Regions from separate parts of the Homo sapiens genome. Here all the other regions are linked to region 3. Evidence: fine-mapped expression QTL. A gene starts in region 3. Each other region holds a variant in brackets. All regions are shown on one strand. Distances are from middle to middle. Region 1 overlaps MICAL3 (microtubule associated monooxygenase, calponin and LIM domain containing 3). Region 2 holds the start of LOC105372853 (a long non-coding RNA gene). Region 3 holds the start of MICAL3 (microtubule associated monooxygenase, calponin and LIM domain containing 3).

Evidence for each region. PIP is the estimated chance that this variant, and not a neighbour inherited with it, causes the effect.
Region 1: its variant is fine-mapped to the expression of MICAL3 in whole blood (TOPMed, PIP above 0.99). The same link has a PIP of 0.9 or more in blood mononuclear cells.
Region 2: its variant is fine-mapped to the expression of MICAL3 in esophagus muscle (GTEx, PIP above 0.99).

The regions. Positions count from the first base shown.
Region 1 is chr22:17,999,905-18,005,126 of GRCh38, reverse strand. The region is part of intron 1 of MICAL3 (microtubule associated monooxygenase, calponin and LIM domain containing 3); the gene reads left to right. Among named protein-coding and RNA genes, the nearest start is that of MIR648, 22 kb to the right of the region's middle. RefSeq lists an enhancer at 2,940-3,636 and silencers at 3,572-3,951, 3,962-4,151, 4,282-4,391. The variant T/A (reference allele first, on the strand shown) is at 2,433.
Region 2 is chr22:18,054,780-18,060,001 of GRCh38, reverse strand. LOC105372853 (a long non-coding RNA gene) reads right to left here and starts at 4,043. Exons shown (of 6, transcript XR_001755424.2): 1 at 3,885-4,043. The variant A/G (reference allele first, on the strand shown) is at 2,191.
Region 3 is chr22:18,022,545-18,027,766 of GRCh38, reverse strand. It overlaps MICAL3 (microtubule associated monooxygenase, calponin and LIM domain containing 3), which reads left to right and starts at 3,206. Exons shown (of 32, transcript NM_015241.3): 1 at 3,206-3,486. RefSeq lists a silencer at 3,069-3,478.

The DNA.
Region 1 (5,222 bases), 23 kb after region 3:
CCCCATCTCTACTAAAAATATAAAAATTAGCCAAGCGTGGTGGCACGAGCCTGTAATCTCAGCTACTTGGGAGGCTGAGGCATGAGAATCGCTTGAAATCAGGAGGCAGAGGTTGCAGTGAGCCGAGATTGCGCCACTGTACTCCAGCCTGGGTGACAGAGTGTGACTCTGCCTCAAAAAAAATAAAAAAAAACAAAATAAAAATAAAAATAAATAAGTAAATATATGAGATTATCTTTCATCTGGCATGCAGTAGATTCTTAAGAAACTCAAGACAGTATTGCGTTGTGGAGTTATGGTGGGGGCACTAGATGTCAGACCTCTGTGTGCACTCGGGCAGATCAGTTTCACTAAGCTCTTGTGTTTTCCTCAGGAAGGCAAAACGGTACTAAGGCGAATAATAAGGAACATCACAGAATTGATATGAGGGTGAAGTTAAATAATGCGGGCAAAGCACTTCCCAACAGTACCTAGCACATAGTGAGCACTTAATAAATGTAAGCTGTGGCTGCTGCTGCTGTGGCCATCAGGGAGATAGGGAAATATGTCAATAAGAAATGTATATTGGCCGGGCACGGCGGCTCATGCCTATAATCCCAGCACTTTGGGAGGCCGAGGCGGGTGGATCACCTGAGGTTGGGATTTCAAGACCAGCCTGACCAACATGGAGAAACCCCGTCCCTACTAAAAATACAAAATTAGCTGGGCGTGTTGGCGCATGCCTGTAATCCCAGCTACTCGGGAGGCTGAGGCAGGAGAATCGCTTGAACCCAGGAGGCGGAGTTTGTGGTGAGCCGAGATCATGCACTCCAGCCTGGGCAACAAGAACGAAACTCAGTCTCAAAAGAAAAAGAAAAAAAAAAAAAAGAAATGTATATTGGGGCAGAGAGCATGGACAGTTGGGTTATGGCAAGGCACAGAGTAGAAATGGAAGCTCTGTAAGCTAGCAGCTTCTGGCAATCAATCTGGAAGGCTTCATGGAGGGATGCACTTTCCAGAGCTCTTTGGATTATAGTTGGAAGATGAGTTATCTGGAGGTATTAGAAAGGCTATCCCAGGGGCCAGGCGCAGTGGCTCATGCCTGTAATCCCAGCACTCTGGGAGGCCGAGGCAGGCACATCACAGGGTCAGGAGATCGAGACCATCCTGGCCAACATGGCGAAACCCTGTCTCTACTAAAAATACAAAAATTAGCCAGGTGTGGTGGCAGGTATCTGTGGTCCCAGCTACTTGGGAGGCTGAGGCAGGAGAATCAGTTGAACCCGGGAGGCGGAGGTTGCAGTGAGCTGAGATGGCACCACCGCACTCCAGACTTGCAACACAGCGAGACTCCATCTTAAAAAAAAAAAAATAAAGAAAGGGTATCCCAGACTCCCTGCGTGATTGGAAGCTGGTTGAGTGGCAGTGGGGTGACCAGCTGTTGGGAGGTTGAAAAGTTCTGAACTAAAGAAGATGGAGCTGAAGCTTGGTAGCCAAATTGTAAGCCTAGCAGGCTGGTGTAAAGCTCTAAAACAGAGCAGACCCCAAGGAGTGGTTAGAAAGTCTGAAATTTGGCTTGTAGTGTGGATGAAAGCACAATTGGCCATGTGTGGTTGAATGGTTGTCACAGATTGAGTTAGGGACGAGCACTTTCGCAGCTCTAGGGAGGGGTGAGCAGTGGGGTTTGTTGCTGAAGGCAGGAATTGTGGACAGCTCATTGGGTGAATGAATTATTAATCGAAGTTTTGTCTGATTATGAGAAGGAAGGGAGAAGGAAGAGAAAGGGGTGCTTCCTGGAGAAGTAGAAATTATGAACTACTTGGAGGTGGAGGGCCCCACACATAAGAAGAATATTCTTCTCTAAGAGATGAGGGACCCAGAAAGAAGACAGGATTCATCTTTACCAAAGGTGGGGTTGATACTGTCGCTGAAAGTAGGTGTCAGAAAGTCTATCGACTTTCAACTAAAGTTCTTTTTTTTTTTTTTTTGAGATGGAGTCTTGCTCTGTTGCCCAGGCTGGAGTGCAGTGGTGCAATCTTGGCTCACTGAAAGCTCCGCCTCCCGAGTTCACACCATTATCCTGCCTCAGCCTCCTGAGTAGCTGGGACTACAGGCGCCCACCACCACGCCCAGCTAATTTTGTTTTTGTATCTTTAGTAGAGATGGGGTTTCACCGTGTTATCCAGGATGGTCTGGATCTCCTGACCTCGTGATCTGCCTGCCTTGGCCTCCCAAAGTGCTGGGATTATAGGCGTGAGCCACCGCGCCCAGCCTAAAGTTCTTTAAGATAGTGGATAATGCTCAAAGTTGAAGAATATTTGCAGGTATTGCTATTCCTGTGCAAAGGATGATAGGATCACACATGAAGTGTGTGAAGGCCATCAGACACCAAGTGCATTCCAGTATCCTCATTGGACCAGATGATGAAACTGAGGCCGAGGGTTGTACTTACC[T/A]GCTCAAGGTCATACAAGATATATTTGGTTCAATTCGCTCTATATTTTCGTTTTCTTTTTTTTAGACAGAGGCTCACTCTGTTGTCCAGGCTGGAGTGCAATGGCACGATCTGGGCTCAGTTCAACCTCCGCCTCCTGGGTTCAAGCGATTCTCCTGCCTCAGCCTCCTAAGTAGCTGAGATTACAGACGCGCGCCACCATGCCTGGCTATTTTTTGTATTTTTAGTAGAGACGGGGTTTCACCATGTTGGTAAGGCCGGCCTCGAGCTCCTGACCTTGTGATCTGCTCGCCTCGGCCTCCCTCCCAAAGTGCTGGGATTACAGGCGTGTGCCACCGCGCCCGCCCTCTGCTCTATATTTTCTCTTAGCGCCCTCCTCCAAAAATTTGAAATTCCCCCTAACCTCTTTGCTTCCCAACTAGAATGAAAATCCTAGTTTCATTTTGCGGCAACTAAGAGCAACAAACAAGTCTCCTTTATTATTATTTTTTCTTTCTTTAGATGGAGTCTCGCTCTGTTGCCCAGGCTGTAGTGCAGTGGCACCATCTCGGCTCACTGCAACTTCCGCCTCCCGGGTTCAAGTGATTCTCCTGCCTCAGCCTCCAGAGTAGCTGGGACTACAGGCCCGTGCAACCACGCCCGGCTAATTTTTGTATTTTCAGTAGAGTCAGGGTTTCATCATGTTGGCCCGGCTGGTCTTGAACTCTTGACCTCAAGTGATCCGCATGCCTCGGCTCCCCAAAGTGTTGGGATTACAGGCGTTAGCCACCGCGCCCGGCCAACAAGTCCCCTTTAAATACATCCTCTCTTCTCTCCGGGGGCAGGCTTTGATATGCCCACCGGGTTTCTCCATTGGCCACTTCATGTGGCTTCTCGCCCCTTCCAAGATTCCCAACCAATCAGTTCTTTCCCGTCTCCCGTTGGGCTTTGAGGAATGTACCATATGGATCCTGCAGGGGGACGGAGAGGACGAAGGGCGTGGCGACAGCTTATTTCTTTGCCTTTTGCACATATCCCGTGAGATTCTGGCAAGACTGAGCGTGCAAGTAGCAATGGAGTCCCTGAGGACGGGGGCCGCTTGCCAGTTTTCGAGGTGTACTGAGATATCTCGCCCCCGAGGCTGGGGTCCCGTGGTCCGGCCCGAGGGCCACAACCCCCGCCCTTCCATGTGCCCGCCCATCCCCCGGCTGCGCCGCTTCTCCGGCTGCTACCTACCGCGCCGGACGCTCGGGCTGCGGAACAGGGCGGCACTGGCCCGCCACAGCGACGCCGGCGCCGAGGGACACCGCAGTATGAGGCAGAGGTAAGAACGGGGCTTCGGGACTCCGACCCGCGCCAACCGTCCCCGGGGAGCCGCATCCTGCTCGCGCCCGAGCTCGGGGTCTCGGGCACCGGGCTGGTTCCGGCGGGCGGTTCTGGAGCGGGTGGCCCCGCGAGCGGACGCGCGCCGAGCCTCCCGCCCGGGCAGTGCCGAAGCCGGGAGCCGCCGCGGCGCGGGCGCCTCCTTCCGGCTGCGCTTATAACCCTGCGTCCGGCCGGCGGGGCGCGAGGAAGCCCCCGCCTCGCGTTCCCGTGTGGTCACCTCCCGCCGGAGGATGCGTGGCCAGGTGCGCCGGCTGGTCCTGAGTTCCGGGGCAGCAGGCGCGGGGAAGCGCGGGGAGGCTGCCCGCTTCAGGCGGGAGGCGGAGGGTGGGGGCTTAGCCCGGCTCTGGGTGCGGGGTCGGGGGGTGCTTTTTGGGGCGGGGGAGGTCTCTGTCTTTACCGGAGTCCGCAGGCTCCGGGCCGAGGCTCCGCCGGGTCCTGCCTCCGCGGCCTGGCCCTCGGGGCCTCCCCGTCCCGCTGCCCCGGCCTGGAGCTAGCGTGCGCCAAGCGTGGGCTCCTGCGACCCTGGCAGGTAGGTGGCCGAGAGGACCCCGGCGCGCCTTTCCGTTTGTGGGGGCGGTGGGCGCGGCCGGGCGATCGCAGCCGCCTTCGCCTCTAGTCTCAGTGATGCCCCTTCCCTGGCTGCCTTCCGAGGGGACCGCGCTTTTGGAGGTCTCCGGGGCACATGGGAAATTCCCAGCTAAGAAACCATCTTGAGGAGCCCTACACGGAACCGGGCTTGCCTGGCCTAGCAGAAAGCCAGCCGCAGCGAGACCCTCCGCCTGGCATGCGGCACTGGTGAGCCGCCACCCCGCTTGCTCAGTAGGTAGCCGGGACGAAGGGGTCTGGCAGGCCCCTCAGGCAAGGCCTCTGTGCCGCATCCCGTTAAGGGGCGGGGACCAGCCCCGTATCTTGGCTGGTCTTCCTGACTCTGAATGCAGAGAAAGTATGTCCAAGAGTTCAAACCACATTTGTGTTCTTTTAATGGTGTTTAATGCAGATGTTAATTGTGATTTATGTGAAACGGGTTGATGTAGAGGAATGAAGGTCAACTGTGGACAGGTGGACAGCTTTTTTTTTTTTTTTCCCCCTAAGCTTGTTTTTAGTGGGATGTGCATGGAGAGGATGACATTTGAATATCAGGCCACCAATGTGTATTTGGTCCCATCTGACACTTTGCTCCATAGACAGTCGTTGTACTCCAGGGATGAGGATGAACTGGGTTTTAAGCTGAGAAAGACATCTTCCTACAGTCGCTGCCGCCTGCGGGAAAGCCCCGCCTTCTGGTTACCTGGCCGCACACAGGCCAGTTCATTGTGGTTACCTTCTCCCGTGAGCACATCTCTGCAGCCCTCTCAGAGGATGCCGTTCATTCCATATTTGATTGCCAGATGTACTTCTCAGGTCAGAAATCCAGCCCCAGATTGTT
Region 2 (5,222 bases), 32 kb before region 3:
CACGAAGTCAGGAGATCAAGACCATCCTGGCTAACACAGTAAAACCCCGTCTCTCCTAAAAATACAAAAAATTAGCCAGGCTTGGTGGCGGGTGCCTGTAGTCCCAGCTACACGGGAGGCTGAGGCAGGAGAATGGTGTGAACCTGGGAGACGGAGCTTGCAGTGAGCCAACATCACACCACTGCGCTCCAGCCTGGGTGACAGAGCAAGACTCTATCTCCAAAAAAAAAAAAAAGGTTAAGATGGTTAATTTTGTGTTACATATATTCTACCACATTTTTTTAAAGCCCTAGGAGAAACCTCCCACATCCTTGACCTCATGTCACATGACCTTCATCTCCACTCATTTTTCAGCTCCATTCTGAAGGCTACACCCTGGTCCCAGCCATCATCAGAAACTATTTTATCTTCCACTCTCTGATCTCAACATCCTATCTTTCCAACTTTCTCACTCCTTTTCTTCCTTCTGTAACAATGGTCCTATCTGCTTGCATCATTGAAACTCTTGACCAATCTACCGTCTCCTAGTCAGGCCACCTCCATTCCTCCCAAAATTGCTGCAACAGTCTTGCTGGTCTTCCTGACCAGCGTCCTGCCCACTCCAGTTCATCCTCAACATCGCATTAGGAGTGACATCTCTGACATTTCAATCCGATCTTAACACTCCCTATTTAAAACCTCTCAGAGGCTCTCTATTGACCTCAAGATAAAGTCCAAACTCCCTAACAAGGCAGACAAGCTGGGCGTGGGGTGGCTTCTGGTTGACATGCCTCCCTTCTCCCCTGTCCTCCTGCATGGGCAACGTGTAACCTTTAACTTTACCAGCAGGTCTTGCAGTGTACTGAGCTTTCACTTTGCTTCTGGGTGCTAGGGTCCTCCCCAACCCATTCCTTCTTCATTTGGCTAACTTCTATCACTCAAGCCTGGGTTGGCGAGCACTTCTAAGAAGTTTCCTTCTGTCCTCACCAGGCTGGATCTGGGGCCCCCAGGTGAGGTCCTGCAGCACCTATGCCTGGCCAGATCAGAGGGCTCACCGCTCTGCACTGTAATGACCTGTTTCCTTCTCTCTCCACCCTGACCAGACTGTCATCTGCCTTCCCACATAGCCAGGCACTGTGTGAGATTCATCGTGGCATCGCCATGCCTGTTACAGTGCCTACCACAGAGTAGACATTCTCTGAGAGGCAAGTGGGTGGGTGGACAGGAGGTTGTTCGAATGCGTGGACTACACAGGTTTTGAAATTCAAACCTGGGAATCAAGTTCCATCAAGAATTTTTAGCTGGAAACACATTTGATCAAGGATGGTTTATCCAAATTAAGAATAGTTTCTGTCTTTGTATAGCACTCAACAGTTTATGGCCCGCTGTCATATTTGTGATGCTGTTTAACACACTTAATGACCTGTGAGTTAAGAAGGAAAGCTATCATCATTACCACATTGTAAATGAGGCCCCTATGTTCACCCAAGGTCAGAGAGTTAGTGAATGTCAGAGCCAGGACACATGCTCAACATCTTCCTTCCACTTGCTCTACCCTCTACCCCACTGCATTTAACTTTTAGGAATAAAAACAATCAGAATAGCTAATCCTAATATCAGAACCTTTCAGAAAACAGGGAATATATATTTTCTGGCTTCTGTGGGGTTCTACCAAGGTCCTAGTTCTCAGGTACTTAGAAAATATTAACTAGCTCCACTGCAGCAAAGCTATCATTGATGTGCCTTGCTTTTTCACATTTTTTAGAAAAAGAAACAAAAACAAGTACCCCGAAAGATCAGTGTCTAACAACATATGGAAATAATGCCTTATATCCACCCTACATCTCTGCAGTTGCAAATCAAGCCCAATTTCTTTTATTTGGTTTTCAGTAGAGAGAAATAAATAAAGCAGGAATATCATTTCTATCCCATCTACATCCAAAAAGGCATAAAAGAGAAGAGTTTATCACTATTCCTCATATAAATAACCTCTTCCATCTGCCTGCTGTAGTCTAATTTAAGTAGTCCTAATTGTATTCGCATAGGACCTATTTTCCAAGTATTCATTTTATTTGTTCTTATATGGACTGTATCCAATTGTTCCCAGTCTCTTTTACCTTTAAAGCCAAAACTGGACATGAGTCACCAGTAAGTTTCTAGTTAAAGCCAAGAACAGTGAGAGGATGACGTCATGGGCCTTGAGCCTTGCTC[A/G]TGATGCTCATTTGAGTGTGTCTCAGGCATATGCAACTACACTGTGTGTCCCCAGAACAAGGCGAGCACTGTGGGGGCTCAGGGCTGCTGCTTCTGCCCAGGGGGAAGTACAGAAAGAGCATCTAGACTACAAAAAGCTCTTCCTCTTTCTCCACATATGCACCCCATAGTCACTTTGGTCTCTATCTGGATCCGTTAAGCACCCATAACCACCTTTTGCAAAAGTGAACCTAGGCTGGGAGAGGTGGTTCGTGCTTGTAATCCCAGCACTTTGAAAGGCCAAGGCAGGAGGATCACTTGAGGCCAGGAGTTCAAGACCAGCCTGGGCAACAAAGCAAGACCCTGTCTCTATAAAAAATTTTTTTAAAGTAACCAGGCATGATGACCCACACCTGTAGCCCCAGCTCCTCAGGAGGCTAAGGTGGGAGAATCACTTGAGCCTGGGAATTCAGGGCCGCAGTGAGCTATTATCATGACACTGCCTGGGTGACAAAGCGAGACCCTGTCTCAAAAAAAAAAAAAAAAAAAGAAGAAGTTGAGGGGCACCAAAGACACAGTCGGCACAGTGCTGCCTTTGCTTGGGTGTCGCCTCTTTATGCCTCCTTGAGCCCACAGCCTTTCCCCGACTGCAGGAACAGATTTCAGCCCACCCACGGTCTCTCCTTGCCTGCAGGGTCCCCATTCTCCTCACCTGACAGAGCCTAGCTTAATGGGTCCCCGAAGAAGAGATTCTCTTGCTGGGCCAGCAGGTTCCTACCCGAGCTGTGCATCTTAGTTTCACTGTGAGTCACCGTGGGACCGCAGGCAAGGTCAGATGCCCCCAAAGGTAGTCAGGTGTCAGTCCACAGGTCTGTGGGGGTGGTCTGTACTAGTTTCCCTGTGATGGGAGGGCTGGAGGGAGGCCTGGCATCAGGAAGCACATGACTGGCACAAAGGGGAAAGGAATACCAAGTTCCATTTTCCTCTGCAAGGCCACAAGACACTGCTAAGAAAAATTATCACAGAGTGCTTAGCTGGAGCCGGTGTTGTCTATTTTCTTATAATATTAATTACTGCCTTGGTAACTATAAGTTACAAACTGCTTGATTTTAAAAGAGCTCACAGATGAAAGCTAAAAGAAGAAAAACAGAGGAATTTGAAATCCCACACAGCTAAGAGCAACAGATAAAAGCTGCCCCCCTGCAAATGCAAATCTAGATGAAGAGAAAGTAAACAAGATAATGCCAGCTAGGGTTGTTCAAGGAAACAAGAGAGTGTTCTATAAATATAACCAGAAAAAAAAATATTTGTCTCAGCAGATGAGATCACCACACATGGCTCATGATAGAGATCTTTTGTTGCTCCCTTAATTGAAGCTTGGAAGAGAGCAGAAATGACAGCAGAAATCAGACTACTGCCCACAAGGTTCCAATGGGCTGGTCCATGTTTAACTAAGTGCAGCTGAAGTCATGAAGACTTGATACCATCCATCTGAACTGTGGCCTGTGTCTCACTGACATATGGGCCCCGCCCTTCCCATCCACCCCCTTCCTCAGCACCAGACTGGCTATGGCTCACCCACACTGAGCAAATCAGGGGCAAAGCCAGGAAGGGACACACAGCCACGGGCTGAACGCAAGCCTAGGGGCAGGGAAAGGCCGAACAAAGCCCCAGCCTCCACTTTTCAAGGACTTCCTTTTCTGAAGGCTACTCACCGTGTGGGACAGGAGCTGGAGCAGAGCTGGAGACCTCCACCCATAGCCAGTGCCTGCTGCATGCCACATGAGCTCTAGGCATTGGGAATACGGCAGTAAACAAGACAAGTCCCCAGCTCTGGGAGCTAGAGATGAAAGGCTTCGGGGGTGGTTGGAGATAGACAACAGAAATGACGACTAGCCAAGATAATTTATGTACTGATAAGTGTACACTGAACACAAAATGCAGATAGAGGCCGGGCATAGTGGCTCATGCCTGTAATCCCAGACCTTTGAGAGGCCGAGGAGGGAGGATCCATTGAGGCCTGGAGTTTGAGGCTATCATGGAAGGAGGCGGAGCTTGCAGTGAGCTATGATCACACCACTGCACTCTAGCCTGGGTGATAGAGTGAGACCCTGTCTCAAAAACAAAACAAAATGAAACTGCAGCTAGAGAGTGATGTGGGGCTCCTTTAGCCCACAAGGTTAGGGCAGGCCTGTCTGAGCAGGTGTCAAAGTTGCAGCCTGAAAGGTGAGGGGGCTGCTAGGTAGCATGGACCATTGAGTGGAAGGGCTCAGAGTCAGAAAAGAGCTTGGTGTGTTCAGGGGACAAAAAGAAGGCCCATAGGACAGTGCCACGGCGACCAACGGAGAGGAGGGAAAAGAGCGGCAAACGCCGGCAGGGTCAGCTCTGTCACTGCAGGCCACCAGAAAGGGTTTGGATTCTGTTGGGTTTTTTAAGGGGAAGAGTCCTGTGATGTGGCATCTACTTTAGAAAGGCCATTCTTGGGCTGCTTTGTACAGGATGGGCTAGAGGGGGCCAAGAACGGCGATAGGAAGAATAGGTAGGGGTTTTGGTACATGGAAGAGAGGAGGGTGGCCTAGATCTGGGGGGAGGAAGTGGAGGTAGTTAGCAGTGGGAAATGCATTTTGAATGTAAAAAAAATGGAGCAGACTGGCCGGGCGCGGTGGCTCACGCCTGTAATCCCAACACTTTGGGAGGCCGAGGTGGGCAGATCACAAGGGCAGGAGATTGAGACCATCCTGGCTAATATGGTGAAACCCTGTCTCTACTAAAAATACAAAAAATTAGCTGGGCATGGTGGCGGGCGCCTGTAGTCCCAGCTACTCGGGAGGCTGAGGTGGGAGAATGGCGTGAACCCGGAAGGCGGAGCTTGCAGCGAGCCGTGATTGTGCCACTGCACTCCAGCCTGGGTGACAGAGCAAGACTCTGTCTTGAAAAAAAAAAAAAAAGAAGAGGACTTACTAATGGATTCATTGTGAGATGTTAGAGAAAAGCAAAGCAAAGAGTTCAGGGTGAGGTTTTCGTCCTGAGCAACAGGGTAGAGTGGTTTCACT
Region 3 (5,222 bases):
ACCCAGCCAAAGTCACTAATACAAAGTATTAGTCTTATACTCACTTTAATGCAATAGGTGCTAAACACTGTTTTCAGTATTCAGAAATTCACTCAATAAGAGAATTTATAAAAGATCTATTGCCACGTTGAATCCACTCCTATTAATTTTCCAACAGCCTTTAGCCCTAAATTTATTCAAGAGTAAAAAACCTTTTGGCCTGATCTGATTTTAGAAGGTACATTTTAAAATAGTCAAAAGGACTAGATTCCCTCCCATCACACTTAACTTTCTCAGTGGGGAAAAAAACAAACGCTGAAAAGGTTTAAAGAGATTCTAGAGTTGACATTGAGCCCCCAGCCCTCACCTTCTGCCCTCTTTGCTATCTTCTCTCAAGGAAGAAGAAAGCAGCATTAGGTTTCATTTCATCTTGGAGAACCATCAGCGAGATCACACAGCCTTATTGCCAACCTTTGACAGTTCTATTACTCTAGTTGCTTTTCCTGAGAGGTCTCCCCTACCCCACCCATCAAAGCCTAACCCTCTCTGACAAGTTTTTCAATTTACCCAATCATCCCATCAGCAGTAAATGCTGAGATTAAAACGTGAGGATCAGAGGGACAGGGCAGCTTTTCTATAGCAGGACTGAGGCTGAGGCCATCAGCAGGGTCAGTATCAAGTGAGCTCCAAGCTCCGGCATCCCTGGCTTAACCCAGGGCCTTGGAAAGCTCACCCCTTTCTCTTATTTTCTCTCCCTATTCTTACTTATTGAGGATTTTAAAATAGTAAAGGAGATACTGCGTTTTTCTGAGTAAATCAAAATAATCAACCAAAAAGCTACAAAGAACTAACCCTAGTTTCCCAAAGAGTTTGTGAGCTAAATAATTTAAATGCTATATACCAGGTGAGGGCACAACAGATGTGTGGAGGGCAGTGGAGTGGGACCGTGCAGGTCCTGTGGGGAACGGGGCTGGGTGAGTTGGATATCCCCATTGGAGAGGATTGGAAAGTCTTTAAAATGTTAATACCCTTGGACTCAATATTCCACTTCTGGGACTCACCTGGAAGGAAATTATTCACACATAGGAGCAAGATTTATGAAGAAAAAATTTTATTGCCATTATTTACAATCAATAAAAGTTGGAAATATTCAATAAAAGGGAAATTATGAGATATTCATATGATAAAAATATTGTATGACATTTAAATTAATGTTTTTTAAAAATCCTCAAAGGAGGAAGAATTTCCCACAAAGTTATTTTTAACAAAAAGCAGGATGCACTTGTGTGTCTGTGTGTGTGTGTGTGTGGTTTTATCTCAACTTAGTTTAAAGCTAGAAAGCTAGAAAAAAGACTGGAAAGAAATATGAATATTACTAATGGCTTTCTCTAGGTGATGAGATTATGAATGCTTTTCTTCCTTTATGTTTCTATATTTTTCAGTTTTTCTAAAATAAACGTTTTCGCCTAGTGCAGTGGCTCATGCCTGTTATCCCAGCACTTTGGGAGGCTGATGAGGGCAGATCGCTTGAGCTCAGGAGTTTGAGACCAGCCTGGGCCATGTGGCAAAACCCCATCTCCACAAAAATTAGCTGGGTATGGTGGTGCATGCCTGTAGTCCCAGCTATGCAGGAGGCTGAGGCAGGAGAATCGCTTGAACTTGGGAGGCAGAGGTTGCAGTGAGCTGAAATTGCACCACTGCCCTCCAGCCTGGGCAATAGAGCAAGATCCTGACTCAAAAAAAAAAAAAAAACTCCAGCGTCAAAAATAAAATAAAATGAGAAGTAGGAGAAATTATTAGAGATTCTGGACCTTTTAGGGCATTTTTCCCTAATATCCACTCAGGCCGTGCCCAGATGGCCTTGCACCTTCAGCTGTGGCATCAAACAAAACTGGGAATTGCAGCTTTACCACTTATCTCGCTGCATAAGCTTCCACAAGCAAGTTACTTACTGTTTGTGCTTTTAGGTTCTTAATATGTAAAACAATGTTTTACATTAAAAATTAAATGAAATAGCTCCTGAAAAGCCCAGTCACATTGTCAGAGCTCAGTAAAAATGTGTTCCCTTATTCTAGTACTGGGGCAGAACACCTGCAGGTTTGTAGGTGGGGAGACAGTGGACAGAGTGGCTGGGTGATGAAGTGGGGCTCTAGAGGATGAGCAGAGATTGCCTCTGAGCCGACACCCTGGCCCTGTCAGTTCCCGTCCTCACATGATGGACATGAAGGGAACACGAATGAAGCAGATGATGATACGGTTAAGTAAATACCACCTGGGACCAGAGAGAGCCCTTCTCAAGGAGTCGCCAGCCCAGAGTCGGCCCTCTTCTGAGCTGGCCGGCTGGAGTCAATCTGCTTTGGACAACACAGCTTCAGATGGAGATAATACTGAGGCCAATGATCCTTGAAGACAAAATAATCTCTGGGCTTCTTTCTGCTCTGATTATAATGTTGCAATTATACTGAGCAGATGCTGATAGGAATTTGGTCAAATCCATCCCGTCTTCCATCTAACTTATTTTAGTGCCTGGTGGATTTCTGTCCAGCTCCACGGGCTGTGGCAATGCCGGGGCTGGCTGGAAGTGTGGAAGGGGCTGGCTGGAAGTGTGGAAGAGGCTGCCCGGGCTCCGGCATCAAGAGGTTTTCTCCGGTGGGGAGGAGTGCGCGATCTGATCCTTGGAGCGCTTGCAACTGTAGCCCTCCCCCAGGGCTCTGCGCTGATCTCCAGGGTCATCATCATAGTAACAGTAAGAACTTCATTTTATAGCATTTTTCAATCTGTAAGACAACGTCGTGTCCTTTATACCGTTGAAATTTCAATTTCACGACTACTCAGATGTTACGCGACTTGCTCAGTATCCAACACTTGGTTCCTTCACTGGCTCCCGGAGACCTGGGTGCTGAAGCCACTGCAAGGAGGTGTGTGCTCGAACACACAGCGAACACCGACTGCGTGGTTAGCAGGATTCGCTGGGGAAGAGGCCTCAGGAGAGTGCTGGAATTTCCAACCTTCGAGGTGCTAGTAACGTGTGTCGAGGAAGGGGTTGGAGAAGGGGAGAAAATGAAAAGAAGGGGAGAAAATGAAAAGATGGGGAGGAGGAGAAATGGTTTGGGTTTGGTTTTGGCTTGAGCCTCACCCAAGCGTCCCACGCCGCAGCTCCGCGGCCTCCTGGGGGCGCCCGCTCGCGTTGCCACGGCGCTCGCGCGGAGCCGCAGCCCGCCCAGCCAGCAGCGCGCGCTCCTGCAGCCCCGGCGGAGTCCCGGCGGGGAGCGCCCGCGTAGGCAGGCACCCGGGGCAGCCCTCCGTCCTCGCCGCGCGGCCTGAGAACCCCTGGGCCCTGGGCGAGGGGGCTGGGCTGTGCAGCCCCCGAGGCTAACTGGGCGGGATCGCAGCTGCAGGGGTTGTGCGAGCAGCCACGGCGGCACCTGTGCCCTGCGGGCACCCACCCTGCCCCTGCCGAGGCAGGCGCCCACCGCCGGCGGTGATGCGGCTGTGAAGCCCTAGTCGGTGAGTACCCTCCAGTCCCCCTGTGGGCGAGCGAATCTAAATGACAAGGTTATGTGTTTTGCTGGATGTCTTCTAAGAATCATTTATTTAGATTGCTTATGGTGGGGAAGCGTTTCCTTTGTGACATCTTTGTGTTTCTCGGATCTATTTCGTTTCCCTCTAAACGCAGCCCTCTCTCCCCTAGTGGGAAAGACACCCAGTATCCGTGTCTCGATCATCGCACGACACCCACCAGTGCGGATGCCACGTACCACACACTCCCCAGAGCCTGCCAGAGAGCAGGGCTGTCTCCCAGCCACGTCCACCCCATTTTCATTGTGCTTCTATCCCGCAGGCAAAGGAAGAGCGTACCCAGGCACCCCCGAGGTAGGCCAGGTGTCAGGACAGCCAGCAGGCCCTTGGCGAAGCCGGGTCCGCTCTGGCTAGCTCAGCGCGGTGAACCCATGAGCTCATTAGGAGCAGCGGCTGCTTTGCGCGGGGAACGCCGGTTTCCCTGCGGCAGAGGGGCCCTGCACCCGCCCGCGGCGCGCGGTGGTGGCCCAGGACCAGTGGCGCACACGCTTGCGCTCCCAGGCTGCAGGGCGCGCTGCGCCGGCGCAGCTCCCGGGCGTGTGCAACAAAAGGACGGCCAAGTTCATTCCCTCCTGGAAGCAGAGGGCGGGGCCGCATGACTTCTGGAGGCTGCATGTGTCTTAGAATCAAATGGTTATGACTCCATAGCAAAATGCTTTCTGTGTGTCAAGTCCTCTCCGTGCCTGCCAACCCCTTCCCTCCTCTCTCCTCCCTAAAATGCTTTCTTATTGGTCTGGCACTGTGATCAACTATTTAGAATTTTCATTGTAAAGAAATGAAAAAAGGGTGAAACCGAGACAAGCTGTAGGCTGAAAGGCTGGGCCCTGTGGTGCTATTCATTAGCTCTCAGGCCTGGCTGCTGGGGAGATTTTTAGAAATCCTGCTACCTGGGTCCAATCCCTGGAGATTCTGACTTAATTGGTCTGGGATATGGCCCAAACACTGGGATTTTTTAAATTTTCTTTTTGTGGGGAGGAGTGGTGGTGGGAAAATTTGGAGTGCATACTGGATTTTTTTTTTTTAACTTCCCAGGTGATTCTAATGAGCTAAGATGGCCACCCACCATTCTAATCAATCAGGGTGACATTTTTCCAGGTGAACTTGGTAATAGTTCAGTCTCTCAGGCTGCCGTTGGAGGGCAGGGTATGCAACTGTCATAAATGCCTACAAGCTACAGGCAAAGAGAGCTGGCAGGGCCTTGGGCTGCTCCAAGAAGCTCAGGATGAAGGCAGTGTCTCAAACGAGGGAGGGATCATCACTCTCGGAACAGGTCCCTTCACTAAATGAAGTGTTCTGATCTATATTCCAGGGCAAGGGGAAAGCAGATGCATACCTTTGCAAGTCTGTAGCATGAAAGCTGTGGCTCCCTGTACATTTGTGGACTTCATGGCTGCCTATGTACTAACCAGAGTCACATGTGTATATCCCCCCACCACCCACTCACTACAAGGAGAATGGACACTTAGAAAGCAGAAGAGGGGGCTGGGCGCAGAGGCTCAGGCCTGTAATCCCAGCACTTTGGGAGCCCGAGGTAGGCAGATCACTTGGGGCCAGGAGTTGGAGACCAGCCTGGCCAACATAGTGAAACTCAGTCTCTACTAAAAATACAAAAATTAACCAGGTGTGGTGGTGCATGCCTGTAGTCCCAGCTACTCGGGAGGCTG